Linked DNA regions of Homo sapiens. The protein of the gene in region 2 purifies or fractionates together with the protein of the main gene of each other region. This does not show direct contact. Each region holds a gene or a part of one and is shown on either strand. Other genes may lie near its edges. The genes, in order: TJP2 and PRKD1.

The links.
Region 1: the proteins of PRKD1 (region 2) and TJP2 purify together in Homo sapiens (affinity purification with mass spectrometry; 2 studies listed by BioGRID and IntAct, with this or other methods). This does not show direct contact.

The regions. Positions count from the first base shown.
Region 1 is NC_000009.12:69,176,907-69,185,079, reverse strand, and holds part of TJP2 (tight junction protein 2), read right to left. Parts: intron 7,038-8,173; exon of another isoform or gene 6,951-7,037; intron 1-6,950. UniProt on the Homo sapiens protein: Plays a role in tight junctions and adherens junctions. Acts as a positive regulator of RANKL-induced osteoclast differentiation, potentially via mediating downstream transcriptional activity.
Region 2 is NC_000014.9:29,630,088-29,638,260, reverse strand, and holds part of PRKD1 (serine/threonine-protein kinase D1), read left to right. Parts: intron 1-1,766; coding exon 1,767-1,971; intron 1,972-3,719; coding exon 3,720-3,843; intron 3,844-5,314; coding exon 5,315-5,392; intron 5,393-7,239; coding exon 7,240-7,519; intron 7,520-8,173.

The DNA.
Region 1 (8,173 bases), on a different chromosome or scaffold from region 2:
AAAAAAAAAAAAAAAAGAAATCAGTCTGCTGCCCAAGCGTGGTGACTCACGCCTATAATCCTAGCACTTCGGGAGGCCGAGGTAGGAGGATCGCCTGAGCCCAGGAGTTCAAGGCCCACCTGGGCAACATAGACAGACCTCATCTCTACAAAATATTTAAAAATTAGCCAGGTATGGTGGCGCATGCCCGTGGTTACAGCTAATCGGAGGCTGAGGTGAGAGGATCACTTGAGCCAGGGAAGTCGAGGCTGCAGTGAGCTGTGACGGCACCACTGCACTCCAGCCTGGGTGACAGAGCAAGCCCGTCTCAAAAAAAAAAAAAAAAAAGAAGAGAGAGAGAGAGAAATCAGTCTGAACTGCAGCAGCAGTTCTTGAGGAATGATGAAAATAATAAATTATAACCACTGCCATTTACTGAGCACCTCAAAGCAACCCCAGGTGGCATCTATGCCATTTCTTCTTTGCTGGCACTGAGTTTCTGTTTCTACCAGAGATCCCCCATCTCTCTTGCCAACAGGGTTCTACCAGCGAGGTACACGTGTTTGAGATTTGGAAGGATGAAGGAAAGCAGAAGCCATTTGTTTTTCTTCTTCCTACAGACAGCAGCAGTAGCAGGCAAAAGTTGGATTCCTCAGACATGAGCTTTACAGCATGTCCAGATTCCCTGCCCTTTCACCAGCCTCAAGGCTGGAGATGCTGAGAAGGTGGAAGGTCAAGCAAGACCTTCTGAGTCTTCTCTGGGTGGCAGCAGCTTTCTAACTTTTTTTGCGGCAAATCAGAAAGCCAGCGGTGGGCTTCCATTTTTTGCGCATCTCGCCTTTTCTTTGTCCTGAAGGCAACTAATACTCTGTATTGAATCCCCTTCTCCTTGAAATAGCTAGAATGACATGTCTTCTTGACTGAACCATGACTGATAGGGTAGGCCTATTTTACAACTGAGAAAACTGAACATGAGAAAAAGGTAAATTGCTCAAAGTCAAGCAAGCAAGTGGCAGGACAAAAGAATTCACACCCAGGTTTATTTGACTTCAGAGGTAAAGAATCAAAGTTAAACATCTGTAACCTGGCTGGGCGTGGTGGCTCGCATTTATAATCCCAGCATTTTGGGAGGCCAAGGTGGGCAGACTGCTTGAACTCAGGAGTTGAAGAGAAACCTGTCTCTACTAAAAATACAAAAATTAGCTAGGTGTAGTGGCGCATGCCTGTAATCCCAGCTACTTGGGAGGCTGAAGCAGGAGAATCACTTGAACCTGGGAGGCACAGGTCGCAATGAGCTGAGATCATGCCACTGCACTCCAGCCTGGGTGACAGAGTGAGACTGTCTCAAAAAATATTTTTTTTAATCTAAAATAAGTTTTTTAAAAAATCCCTAACCTATGGTCCTAGGAATTCACACAAGAGAAATGGGTGTACATGTCCACAAGGCAATGTGTAGGTGCTTTTCATGGCAGCTTTATTCATAATAGCAAAAACACTGAAAATAACCCAAATACCTATCAACAGAAGAGATAAGCCAAATGTGACAGATGCATATAAATGGAATACGACTCAGTGGCAAAAAAGAACTACTGAATCTCACGCAACAAATACGGATGAATTTCACAGAGGTTAGGTTGAGTGAAAGATGACAGACATAAAATGTTGATTTTATTTATATATGGGTCCTCTCCCAAGTTCAAGCAAAAGTGTTCCACGGTGAGAGAAGTCAGAAGAGAAGTTCTCTTTTAGGTAGGTGTGGTAATCATTGGAAAAGTGGCAAGAGAGAACCTTCCAGAGTGATGGAAAATTCTAGTTTTTAATCTAGGTGGTAATCATGCAGGTGAATACATTCATGTAAAAATTCACCTACCTCTGGAACTAGAGAGTGATGGTGTTTACAAAATACTGTGAGTGTATTAAATGCCATTGAATTTTATACTTTAAAATGGTTAAAATGGTACACTTAATGTTATGTGTACTTTACCACAATAAATAAAATTCCCTGGCCAGGCACAATGGCTCACGCCTGTAATTCCAGCACTTTGGGAGGCTGAGGCAGGTGGATCACCCGAGATCAGGAGTTCGAGATCAGCCTGACCAACATGAAGAAACCTTGTCTCTACTAAAAAAAAAAAAAATACAAAATTAGCCGGGCATGGTGGTGCGCACCTGTAGTCCCAACTACTCGGGAGGCTGAGGCCGGAGAATTGCTTGAACCTGGAGGGCACAGGTTGTGGTGAGCCGAGATGGCACCACTGCACTTCAGCCTGGGCAACAAGAGTGAAACTCCATCTCAAAAAAAAAAAAAAAAAGAAATTCATCAAGCTCTCTACTTGAGATTTGTGTGTGTGTATATGTATATACATACATATAAATTCAACGAAATTGATAACACAGAAAAAGCTTCATTATCAATAAGCAGACTTGTAACAGAGGTCGTGCCACTGCTTCTACAGGAAAATTTTCTTCATGGAAACATACCAGGCAAATTTTTTTAGCTCTAAGTCTGGCAGATTGAGTCTACCTTTCCTGCCTCTTCCAGATCCTTCACTGCCCAAAGTCATCTGCCAAACTGTGCACTTAAATAGTATAAGTAGACTAAATATTTCTCTCAGACCTTTGATTAAAATTCAATTTAGGCTCAAAACGAACTTGGGGCCTCTTCCTTTCAATGTGTTGCAAACTTGGGGCTTCTTCATTTCAATGTGTTGCCACTTGCCCTTGTTTTTAGGCTTTAACAATAACACCAGAAGGAAACGCACAAATGTTTCCAGCTCCATTTCTGGAAAATTTCAGTGAGTGTCTAAGATGCCACAATGTCTCTCCTCTCTTAAAACTCACCCAGACACTAAACAGACCAGCCCAAGGAAGGCAAAGTGCTCTGCCTGAGGTGACGTTGAAAAACTCCAACATGCCTGAAGTTATGCTGAAACTCAGATGACAGCAGTGATTTTACACCAGTGAACAATGTGGTTTTTTGCAGCAGTGACCAGTAGGCTCATCTTCAACACATTTGTGAAGAACAAATCAGAAAGGGCTCCCAGCTGCAGGCCTGCCCCTCCTTCCAAGCGTATGTCACAGGCAATGAGGCCCGGGGAGAAGTCCATGGGGGTGGAGAGGAAGAGGAAGAGGAAGAAGGATTCTCAAGAAGCTCTGCAAGATGGTTGCAGTTGCTGGCTTAAGCTGCAAAGTAAGGAAGAGAATCCAGCACACGTGGTGCTGGTACATAATTTAAGCTGCAACTGAATAATAGATCTTTCCATCACTTTATGAGCAAAACAACTACCAGCCACTCTTGGACTCTGTCTTTTTAAAAAATGCTTTTCAGAGATAATCCACTGGATCTCTAAAAAAAAAAGAAAGCAAGCAAGCAAACACAAACGTAGTTTAAGGAGCACAAAAACATTTTAAGATGAGAAGAACCAATGGAAATAATTTAGAATGTTCTCTAGGCTTTATACTCAAACTTCAAAACCTTCAGAATCTTAAGCACAAAAGACTTTGAGATGATCAACTGTAACTACTCATTTTCTGATAAAGAAACTGAGAACTAGGCCAGGCGAGGTGGCTCATGCCTATAATCCCAGCACTTCGGGAGGCCAAGGCAGGCGGATCACGAGCTCAGGAGTTCGAGACCAGCCTGGCCAACATGGTGAAGCCCCGTCTCTACCAAAGATACAAAAAATTAGCAGGGTGTGGTGGCGTGTGCCTGTAATCCCAGCTACTTGGGAGGCTGAGGCAGGAGAATCGCTTGAACCTAGGAGGCAGACGTTGCAGTGAGCTGAGATCGGGCCATTGCACTCCAGCCTCAGCGATAGGGCTAGACTCCACCTCAAAAAAAAAAAAAAAAAAAAAAAAAAGAAATTGCAAACTAGAGTCACAAGACAGCAAAAGCCACCCAGCTAATCAGTGGTGCAGCTAATGCTGCTTCCATGCCATTACAAAAATGGTCTAGATGAAATTCTATAATTTTTTTTGGACAAAATTCTCTGGATGAAATTCGCAATTCTAACAAACGATCATCTACTCACTATATAAATGTCAGGAATCCACTGTCCTAATTTCTCAATTAGTCTCTTATTCCTACTAGCTTATACAACAAGCCTGCCCCAAATCAAGTCAGTCCAACGTTTAGTGGATGTGTTGGTGCTCTGTTAGCTTCTGGGGTTACCAAGATGACTCAGACCAGGGAGGGGCTCAGGGCTGATGGGAAGTGATAAGGGCTAGAATAAATACTAGCATGTGCATCCTCACCAATCACAGGCAAGAACACAATTGATTCAGCCAGACTGCAGAAGGGTAACGCAGAAACCAGGCTGCTAAAACTGAGCTCACCAGGAAGTTCCTTCCAAATGATTCATTCCTTTCAAAAACAGAAATGTTTAGTTTTGCTAATTAATTCCCTCAAATAATTTCATCTGCTTTGCCATATATACCTAGGAACAGTCTTCCAAGGACTGAGAGCAGAATGATTGTCTCTCGAAGCCTACATTACTTACTCCTATTCCCATTGTAGAGCTCCACCCAGGGTCTCAGGTGTGCTCAGCTTTAGTAGGCATCAAAGAAACACAACCTAGAACTCGGAACACTTCCTTTAATACTCTGAAAACAAATGACTCTCAACAAATGGAAAAAAATGGCCCCAAGTGGAACATTATTTCCCCCTCAGAAGAACCTAGAAGGTCCTTGAAGCTACATGTCCTGGAAGAGTTAATTCCTACTGATGACTAGAAAGTACTGTTTTCTCTGTTTACCTTCAACTCAAGTGACAAAATCCAAAGTATCTGCAATGTTCTCACGTCTCCACCAAAGCTTTTAATACGATGGCAAAGGCATAACTGGATTTTAGTCACATTCTATTCATTACAGCCATAACTGTTACCTACCAGTAAGAATAACTATTCTAATAACTCTCTCCCACAATGGGTTACAAACATTCCCTCCAAATGCCTGACTTGTCACTAACTCGTGTGTTTAGTACCATAGTTATATAGGGTATCTATAATATAGAGCATACTGTAAAGTTTCCAAAGATGATACCATGTTTTCTCTGTGAACATAATGCATATATTTAATATGGCTGATTAAAGTCTACAATAGAAATAATAATTACCACACTAATTAATTCTGAAGTCCATGTTCACATACACATATAGGTAAAATTTAGTGAACATGTGTACTCAAGAATGTGACATAAGATCCTTGCCATGATTAAAGGTATGATTCGAAATCTTTTGGTCAGCCTAACTTACTAAAACACAAATATTTGATTCATGGAAGATCCATTAAGAGATTCACTTTCAGCCGGGCGCGGTGGCTCACACCTCTAATCCCAGCACTTTGGGAGGCCGAGGCGGGTGGATCACGAGGTCAGGAGATCAAGACCATCCTGGCTAACATGGTGAAACCCCGTCTCTACTAAAAATACAAAAAATTAGCCGGGCGTGGTGGCGGGCGCCTGTAGTCCCAGCTACTGGGGAGGCTGAATGGCGTGAACCCGGGAGGTGGAGCTTGCAGTGAGCCGAGATCGCACCACTGCATTCCAGCCTGGGCGACAGAGGGAGACTCCGTCTCAAAAAAAAAAAAAAAGAAAGAAAAAGAAAAAAGTAACTTACTTTCACCACCACCGCTGTTACTGCACCCCCATACAGTAACTGTAGGAAAACAAAATAGAAACCATAACCACTGATATTCTAATTGAGCTAAAAGGTAAAATAAACATTCATTATAACAAAATGTATCTGACTATGGTCTGCAATATACAATGGTGTGTAAATGGTTAAGGAAAGCTACATTACGTTTTTCAGGTTAAAAAACCTGATTTAACTTTAACCATCTGGCAGAGGCACTAAACAAACATCTGTGCTGATTTTAAATGACTAAAGTACAAGTTACTAATTGAAAGCTTAGGATTTCTCATAAATGGTGTGAACACACACATCACTAGAGAGTCTACTGAAACAGTATTTTCTCTTCTCCTTGATTCATTCGCCTGCCATGAGCATGCATCTCTCTAGGTCAAAGCAGGGATACTTGTTTTCTACCTCAAGGCTTCCTGTTCCTACGAAAATCCTTGTTAAAGCCTATTTTACAGACCAATACAAGCTTCATATTAAAAAAAAAATAAGAAAAAAAAACTCATCCAGTTGGCATTCTTCTGAAAGACTTTGAGAAATTAAATGCATTTACAGGTGAGGCTGTTTGGCTGTCCACATTCTTCGGCAATGAATCATGAGCAAGAGTCACTTGATAATACAGTGATGTCCTTCATCAGTGTCAAAATACTTCCTCCCCTATCACTCTATCATATCAAAAATATCATACCAACAGACCTTTAAAAACTGCAGAATGGCTTGTGGAAGCAGAGAAAGGAATGAGAATTGGGCCAGACGTTAAAACAAACAGCTAGCTCTACAAATACACTGTCTGCAACCACATCTAAGAGATCTGAGTGGATAAGAGCAGGATGCACACGCTTAAGACAGAAAGTCCATCAAATTCAACTTTCCTGGCTATTCTGGGCCATTCTGTGTTTGACTTTCTTGAAGGCGTGGTCAAGGTATACCAGGCTCTCTATAAGTAAGCACCACACTCATATTTTAAGCAGTATTATGCACACCTCAGATGTCAAGGGCTAGCTTTACCATTTTTGCCTTAGCCTCATATTACTCATTCCCAGAGTTGATAATTTTTCTTAAAGCAAACTCACTGCTTTACTTAATATTTATTTTTGCCTCATTCTAAGCAATCTAGCCATGAAATAAATGGATGTGGTAGCTGGTTTTCTGTTTTTATTCCTAACATATAATATTCATGCATCATAATTGAAAAATAGAATATGTATCTCTCTGCACCACCTGTAAGTCTGTCTGTATACCAGACTTTGGAAAGCACTGTTTTGGGATAGCATAAAAGGTAGAGAAAATGCTTTATTAAATGATTAGGTATTTTGGGGGTATGATAGTCCTTACTCTGTCTCCTCTGAGAGCTCACAGGTTATCTAGGATGATGAAGCTTTGGTTGTTTAATGGCCAGCTGGATGATAGAGACACCAATCCCTTTAAAAAACAGAATGGAGCCGTCACTGTTATGGGTAGCCATTGCCCCAGCTTGTGCAGGTCTTCTGGGGCTCTAGCTGTCAGTCACCCAGTTCTAAGAAGTGCTTTTCCTAATCAAATGGAAAAAGTGGAAGCAGACACTCTCCAACTCGGAACTCTGCCTCTCACACTACAATGTATGCAGCATACTAGCTCAACTGCTTTCCTAGGTACCATCCAAAATTAAAACTAGTGGCCGGGCACGGTGGCTCACTTCTGTAATCCCAGCTACTTTGAAGGCTGAAGCAAGAGAACCGCTTGAACCCGGGAGGCAGAGGTTGCAGTGAGCCAAGACCGCACCACCACACTTCAGCCTGGGCAACAGAGCAAGACTCCATCTCCAAAAAAAAAACCAAAAAAACAAAAATAAAATTAAAACTAGCTACTGCAATACTGCATATTGGATTTCCATGCCTGAATTTTTTTTTCCATTGCTATCACACAGCCTTTTCAAAAAGTTTAATAGTAATACCACCTTAGACCCTCCCAAATTCACTTTCTATATGGGCATCTACTAAAAAGGCTGATTGCAAAAATTCCTATGAGGGAGAAACAGGCCCTAAATAGCTTTTTAAACCTTAACAAAGTTCACATAACCATTGATGTGTTTAACCCACTAAATGGGTGTTAAATCTAACCTCTGAGTCTGTGTTTCTGACCCTAACCCTTGGATTTAGGATCAAGACAAAAACTCAGTAAAACACCAGAGAAAACTGTTCTGCTTCCCTCCACTCCCATCTGGGGCAATCTCACCCTCAGACACTACCATATACCAAATCACCTTCTCTGGAAAATCAAGGCTGGTTGGTCCAACAACTGTTGGGCCCCTGATTACTGCTTAGAGTCAAATCAATGAGGCATGTTATTGGGAATCAGCTCTCAACCTAGATAAATTCATCTGTAGCCACAACTGCTTAATGGGATTCGTTCTAGAGATGAGGCAAGGAATTCCCTGGTGGCTCATATTGTTGGTAGAATATGTTGAAAGTTTCAGCAGTGATTGCGAACCCTTCTACCGCTTCACCCCGCCCCCACCACACCCAAACTTCATGCCTCTCCCCAACCAAGTCTGCATGACTTTTTAAATTACTATTTAT
Region 2 (8,173 bases):
GAAAACTTGGGTAGCCATAATTTATTTCCCAGTTTTATTATCTTATATTCTTATCCTAGTTTGCCCAGAAATGTGGATGTTGTTGGGCTGCCTACAAGTTATAGCTCTCAGTCTCTTTTCCTCTGTCCTTCTCATTTCAATCATCTTTAATAATAAAAGGAACTTTGTCAGCCAAAAAAAAATAGATGTATTTTCTGTATTTGGCAATATTCCTTCAAGAAAACTCTAACTGTATAAATTAACTTCGAAGGACTGCTAAGAAAAATGCCATATCTTAAGCAAAGAGCTTACATTTTCTTCTTGGGTAGCATTCTAATGGATCACTACCAAAATATTTGACTTAGAATCCCAGGTTAGCTTTTTCTGCAGATAGTGGTCTTTATACCTTTAGCCTGATACCAGTTTTCCAATTCCTCTGGAAAGGAAAATGGCTGTAAAAGATCACAGATACTTTCAGTTGAATATTTTTGTTGCTAAGAAGCTGAAGAATGACTATCTTTGCTCTAGAACTTTCTTCTCTAGAAGAAATATATACTGTACCTAAAAGAAGAAGAAGGAAGAGCTCTCCAGGAAAACATTGTCACACTTGTTTCTGGCTTGGAGATTCATGAATTAGCTGCCAAAATTGAAAGCTTGGCGATCGTCCCACTTTCTGTGGCATGTGGTGTTGACTTTGTTCAGGCTCAGGGAATGTCAGTGTGTACTGGATAACTATAACTAAGGGGATACAGAACAGTTTTTGATGTTGTTGATTACTTTGAAATTCTATTTTCTTATACATTCAGAAAAATCTGGTAAAATGTGAATTTTCCAAGCTTGGCAGGCTAGAGTCTCTCATTAATCTGTATTTTCATTTTAAAATGAGTACTTTGCATTAGTAAGTAATTTTAATTTTTGCCATTACCATCAACTGTATAATGACAGGTTCAATATTACTTCAAATATCAAATGTCTTATTTAAAAGCTGCAGCTATGTGACCAATTTAATATATTGGAATTCGTGATTTTCAAAGTTACTCCAATAGTAAGAATCAGTGGCTTGAATCTTTTTTCATGTGAAAATTTCTGTCATCCTCTTACATACTTTTTTTTCCCACCAGGGCTGTGCTTCTAAAATATGAGCAGCTTCCCAGTCACTTGGGCCTGGTATCACTTTGCCTTCTAGCATTTTACTTCTATCCCAGCTTTGGCTTCCTTCCAAGGTTTTTCATGACTTTTCATGTTTTCAGGCTTGGGAAAACGGAAAACGAGCATCTACCTATAAAATTACATGTTCAACCTCTCATAAACTCAGATGCATATAAACTGAAATAAAAAAGGAAATTGAAAATCATGGAAGGATCTGGAGGCCATTATCTTTAGCAAACTAACACAGGAACAGAAAAGCAAATACCACATGTTCTCACTTATAAGTGGGAGGTAAATGATGAGAACACATGGTCACATAGTGGGGAATAACACATACGGGGTCCCTTCAAGGTTGGAGGGTGGGAGGATCAGGAAAAATAACTAATGGGTACCAGGCTTAATACCTGGGTGATGAAATAATCTGTACAACAAACCCCCATGACACAAGTTTACCTATGTAATAAACCTGCACATATACTCCTAAACTTAAAATAAAAGTTAAAAAATAAAAAATAAACTCATCACAGAACTACCTCTTTGGGGCTTCCAATTGATTTGTTTTAGGATCACCTGACTGTCTCTTAAGCCCTGGCTCCAAGATTCCAGGCTTATCTTCATGGGTGAAAATAATTTTCTAGATTTGCTTAGCCCTGGGGCAGAGTCTGATGTGGTCATGGAAGAAGGGAGTGATGACAATGATAGTGAAAGGAACAGTGGGCTCATGGATGATATGGAAGAAGCAATGGTCCAAGATGCAGAGATGGCAATGGCAGAGTGCCAGAACGACAGTGGCGAGATGCAAGATCCAGACCCAGACCACGAGGACGCCAACAGAACCATCAGGTGAGAGCAGCACTCCCAGCCTCAGCCAACAGGGGAACCCCAGGCAGTATTTTCTCTTTAAACCTCTTTGATATTTTAATAGATTATAGTAGAAATGTGAAGTGCACGTTTACTTTTATATGAATGAACTGCGTGCTGTAAATGAGAGCCTTTGAAGTTAGGAGGTCTGGGTTCCCTGGGAGAAGTGTGGTTGCCATTCTTTCCCAGCATCACCTCATTCATTGAACTATTTTTTTTTTTTTTTTGCATGTGAGAGATGCTCATGTTTGCCATCCACAAGTTTATTACTAAGTTAATATTAATTTGAAGCTCATTGTGTAGAAACAACAAAAATCAAGATCAAACTCAGCAGAAATCATCTATTTTATTAGCTGGCCCCTGTTACAAATATCATAGTCTGTGTACACTTCACTGTTCTTGATATTATTTCAGAAGTATGTGCAATTTTATATCTGTTATTTAATTATGCTTTTGGTTACTGGATGATCCCCACTTTTTATATCAGGAGTCAGCACAATGTGGCCACCAGAGCAAATTGGACTGCTGCCCAATTTGTAGTAAAGTTTTATTGGAACATAGCCTGTCCATTCATATTGTCTGTGGCTGCTTTTGCACTATATTGGTAAAGTTAGGTCTTTTGCAAAAACTAAAATATTTATTACCTGGCCCTTTACAGAAAATGTTTCCTAGTCTCTGATTTATATTATAAAGCCTATTGAAACTTTTGTGTCCATTTTACGAATGCCATGTTTATTGACAAACAAATTGTTCATGAGAGTAGAGCAATAAAATGATTGTTTTTTTCCATTTAATGGCATAATGAACATTTTTTAAATAGTGGGAAATAATTGTCTTGTGACCTGTCTTTTGAAGACATACACTTCTTTAGTACCAAAGAGTTTGCATGGTGCCGGGGGGCAGTGGTGGGAATTACATATATATTCATGTTGTGGGAAGGGGGACAAGGAGGGAGGGATGAAGAGAGGAAGAAACAGAGACTAGCAGATTCCAATTTTTATGACATTATGCAGAGAAACTAAAAATTCATGTTGAATAATGTAATCTCTAAATGATTGATAATGTACCTATAATAGGAAATAAATAAGCAAATAAGCTTTCATGTGTGAGTCTGAATAGTGTGGCCTCAGTAGACTAAGAAGTACTCTACCTCAGGTTTACCTGAAAACTGAACACCATACAGTTCAACCCAAAATATGAGGTGCTTATTACCCAGCCTTGGGAATTTTTTTTTTTTTCAGATGGAGTCTTGCTCTGTCACCCAGGCTGGAGTGCAGTGGTACAATCTTGGCTCATTGCAACCTCTGCCTCCCGAGTTCAAGCAATTCTCTGCCTCAGCTTCCCAAGTAGCTGGGATTACAGGTGCCCGCCAACATGCCCAGCTGATTTTTTTTGTACTTTTAGTAGAGACGGGGTTTCACCATCTTGGCCAGGCTGGTCTTGAACTCCTGACCTCGTGATCCACCCGCCTCGGCCTCCCAAAGTGCTGGGATTACAGATGTGAGTCACTGCACCCGGCCAGGATTTTTTAAGGTGTACAAACAACGTGCCTATCACTCTTCAGAGTAACCCACTTTCAGAACCATGGTGCCTGACAATACGTTTTACTAAACATGAGATGTGAATTTTGTAAAGTTTCACTTGGATTAGCTGACATAAGGTTTTATGCATGAAAATACATAAAATGTACCTGAAAACATTTTTTCCCTACAATATTTTGACTTCTCAAGTCCATCAACAAGCAACAATATCCCACTCATGAGGGTAGTGCAGTCTGTCAAACACACGAAGAGGAAAAGCAGCACAGTCATGAAAGAAGGATGGATGGTCCACTACACCAGCAAGGACACGCTGGTAAGATCCACAGGGAACAATGTTCTCTTGCCTTGCTAGCTTTAATTAGAGGAGTTGCTAATGTCCCGTGAGGACTGTGAGATTTCTGCATTACTCAGAGTAAACCTCAGCACAGGCATGACACGGGATTAGGTAAGGTGCATTACAGTCTCTGGGTGTCAGATATAGTTGAGCAAGCAACGAAGTTAGGAAAAAGTGTGGAAAGCAATTTCAGGCAAACAAATTCATTGACCTTGATTACCTGAGATGTCTACCTGCCATTTTATAGCACTTGTGGAAGCCACAGTATGTGCTTTCAGAATGCTTCACTGCAATTTAGAATTTTATAGGAAACACTGCATTCTAGGCAGAGAATAAAACAGTGATAACTATCTTATACTTCGTAAGTCCTTAACTAAGTTTTCCCTGAAGAACTGACCCATTCAGGAACATTGGAATCCTGTACCCTGAGATTTTCTTAATAGTTGAGGAATGAGGTTGTGTACGTACGTAAGAGAGAACAACTTGATTCACGTTTCAAAGTTAAGTTGACAATTGACTGATTTCTGTTACTGTATTGCTTTTCTCATCTCTTACCTATAGGATCACTACAGATAAGCAGACACCTATAACCTAATTGATCTATCTATAATTTCGACCATCTGTGTTAGAGAGAGAAGACCTACCTGATATTATAGGACTCAATTGAATACCGCCTAGTTCTTTTTAGACATGGTGTAATATATTTAATATATTTGACTGGCCTAAAATTGGTTGTGGAGGAGAAGAGCGGAATCATAGAGCTTTGGGGTCTTTTATAAGATAAAAATACACACACACCCTAAAATCCTGAAAGATATACCTACAGTGTAGAAGGACCTGTTCATCAAATCATAGTGGTTAGATCTGTAGTGAGCTGGAGAGAAGGTAGAGTTGGTTGTTTGATGCATTCCCCTGACTTTAAGTTGATGTCATGGAGTCAAACTTATTGTCCAACAAAATATTCTTTACTTCTACTCTAACATTCAGAATTTTCCCATTGCCAATGGAAGCAAGAATACCTGGCTCCATCAGCATGGGATTTCTTACGTCCTAAAATAATGAGCATGCATAATAAACATTGCATCTCCTAGTAAACCTTATTTTATTATAGACTATACATCCACCTTTAGCCCTTCAAGCAGTGAAATAAGCTTAAAAATGATGTTTTCTGTTTACTATGCACTTTCTAAATGCCAGGCTCTTACTGGGCGCTAATACTTCATCTTCTTTATTACTCACGACCCTGTAACATAAATGCAGATACTTATCAGACATGTGCTAAATAGTCAACCTCTAGAGCCTGAAATTGAGCATGAGTCTGCCTTTCCCAAAGCCCATGCACTTTCCACCCTCAAATCGCATGTCCCTATTGGGGAAATCTATTTATGTTTTCAATTGGGGATATTTTTAAAGTTTTTTAAAAAGATCTTGGATCTAACTTCTGTTTCAGCGGAAACGGCACTATTGGAGATTGGATAGCAAATGTATTACCCTCTTTCAGAATGACACAGGAAGCAGGTACTACAAGGTAAGAGTGGGCTCTTTCTTTGTAGTTTCATACCTCTTATTGCTTTTTCATGGGAATGTAGAGTATAAGAAATAGGAAATACATCCAACAAACGTGGCTATTTTTGTGCTTCCTCCAGGAACTATTTTTTTTTTCTTCTCTATAGTCTACAAATTTCTTGGGATTCAGGTTGGGACCTCTTGATTCTTCTGTGAATTTTAAATTTCCCTGGGGAGTGTTTCTGGTACCATGGGATGATGGGAGAGGGAGGGAGGTGAAGATTAATTGAATATGTTAGCAGAGAAGTGTGATTTAACTAGAAAATTAATGGTCACAGCAGATCAGCTCAAAGTAAACTCCTGATATCCACTGCATCTAGCACACTGCTAGGAGTGAAGAAACATTGTATGATTTCTCCATGCTTGTCAATATTCACAAAGAGCACTTTCCTCTAGAGAAAAAAATGGCAGCAATTTTTATTCTGTCCCTCTACATTAAGTAATACAGATGTGGCATACTATATCACCCAGTAAAACACAACTCCAAAAAAAACTTCATAGAGAAAATAATAGATACTTGCTCCTTCAAAATGAATGCAGACTCTGGAATAGTTGATTTGATTCTCCACAGCCATTTTACATAGCTGTCACAGAAAATGGAAACCTCACTAATTTTAAAATTAAAACTTTGTTTTAAAAGTTATTATTTTTTAGCCCCTGCATACTTCCTGGAAGATGCAGTAGTGATTTCTTTTTTTTAGTATGAATTGCCTTAAAAATGATGACTATTGGCCAGGCGCAGTGGCTCATGCCTGTAATCCCAGCACTTTGGGAGGCCGAGGCAGGTGGATCATTTGAGGTCAGGAGTTCTAGACCAGCCTGGCCAACATGGTGAAACCTTGTCTTTACAAAAATACACAAATTAGCCAGTCGTGATGGGATGCACCTGTAATCTCAGCTACTCAGGATGCTGAGGCAGGAGAATCACCTTAATCTAGGAGGCGGAGTTTGCAGCGAGCCAGGATTGCACCAATGCACTCCAGCCTGAGCAACAGAATAAGTCTCTGTCTCAAAAATAAAAATAAATAAATAAAAGGCCAGGCGCAGTGGCTCACCCTTGTAATCCCAGGACTTTGGGACACCGAGGCAGGCAGCATGAGGTTAGGAGTTCAAGACCAGGCTGGCCAACATGTTGAAACCCTGTCTCTACTAAAAATACAAAAATTAGCCAGGTGTAGTGGCAGGTGCCTGTAATTCCAGCTACTTGGGAGGCTGAGGCAGGAGAATTGCTTGAAACTGGGAGATGGAGGTTGCAGTGAGCCGAGATCACGCCACTGCACTCCAGCGTAGGTGACGGAGCAAGATTCTTTCTTGGAAAAAAAAAAAAAAAGACCATTTTAAAACCAATCTCTAGTTGTCCTCACTTAAACTATTCACTTGGCTATGTTATTACATTAACATGTATTGAGTGCCTTAAAGAATAGGTTAAAATTTAAAAATAGCCATGTCTGCCTAAATGCATTTCAAAAGTGTTGTGATTCTACCTCACTGTTACAAAAATTATCGCTTATTTTCTAAGTCTTGGATTTTGGTGAAGATTCAAAATCATTTTTCCTAACCATACTGATTCTCGCCACATGAACATAGCATAAAAAGTCACATTTTCTAGAAAAAGGAAATAAGGTTTCCCATAGTAAAGGTATTTTTTTTAATTTTGCTTAGCAGTATTCTGTGTTTTATAGTTTAAAAGTATTTTATTTAAATGGTGGCTATTTGTGATGTCATTTTTCACATGTTCTTGGCATGAATTTTCTTTGAAAGTTTACATACTTTTGATAAACAACATTTAGTACTTTTTTTCTTTCACAGGAAATTCCTTTATCTGAAATTTTGTCTCTGGAACCAGTAAAAACTTCAGCTTTAATTCCTAATGGGGCCAATCCTCATTGTTTCGAAATCACTACGGCAAATGTAGTGTATTATGTGGGAGAAAATGTGGTCAATCCTTCCAGCCCATCACCAAATAACAGTGTTCTCACCAGTGGCGTTGGTGCAGATGTGGCCAGGATGTGGGAGATAGCCATCCAGCATGCCCTTATGCCCGTCATTCCCAAGGGCTCCTCCGTGGGTACAGGAACCAACTTGCACAGTGAGTCTGCCAGTTTTCTAACCAGCCCAAAGCTCATCATGTGCCTACCCCTTGCTTAGTAAACATGTGCCCTGCCCTTCCTAAGAACAGAATGAAGAAAGACTTCTTGGGGATGACTTAGTTTATTGTAGAATGTAGGGTGTCTAAATAAAAGCTGCTGCACATACTAAGATGTTTAGTTTGTTAAATTATCCTATTTTATTATAGCTATTTTATATTAAAATTTAACAAATTCAGGTAAACACTATGTATTAGGCAATTACAGACCTCTAGAGCTATTGGTTATAAAAGAAGAAGTAATCTGGCCGGGCTCAGTGGCTCACACCTCTAAACCCAGCTCTTAGGGAGGCCAAGGTAGGTGGAGGACTTGAGCCAAGAGTTCTAGTCCAGCCTGGGCAACATGGGGAAACCCTGTCTCTACAAAAAATACAAAAATTAGCCAGGCATAGTGTCATGCGCCTGTGGTCCCAGCTACTCTGGAGGCTGAGGCAGGAGAATTGCTTGAGCTCAGGAAGCATAGGTTGCAGTGAGCCAAGATCAAGCCACTGCATTCCTGCCTGGGCAAGAAAGAGGAGGAGGAGGGGGAGAAGGAGGAGGAGAAATCTAGCCAGCTTCAGCTTGACATGGAATGCAAGAGAAGAAGAAGAAAGGAGA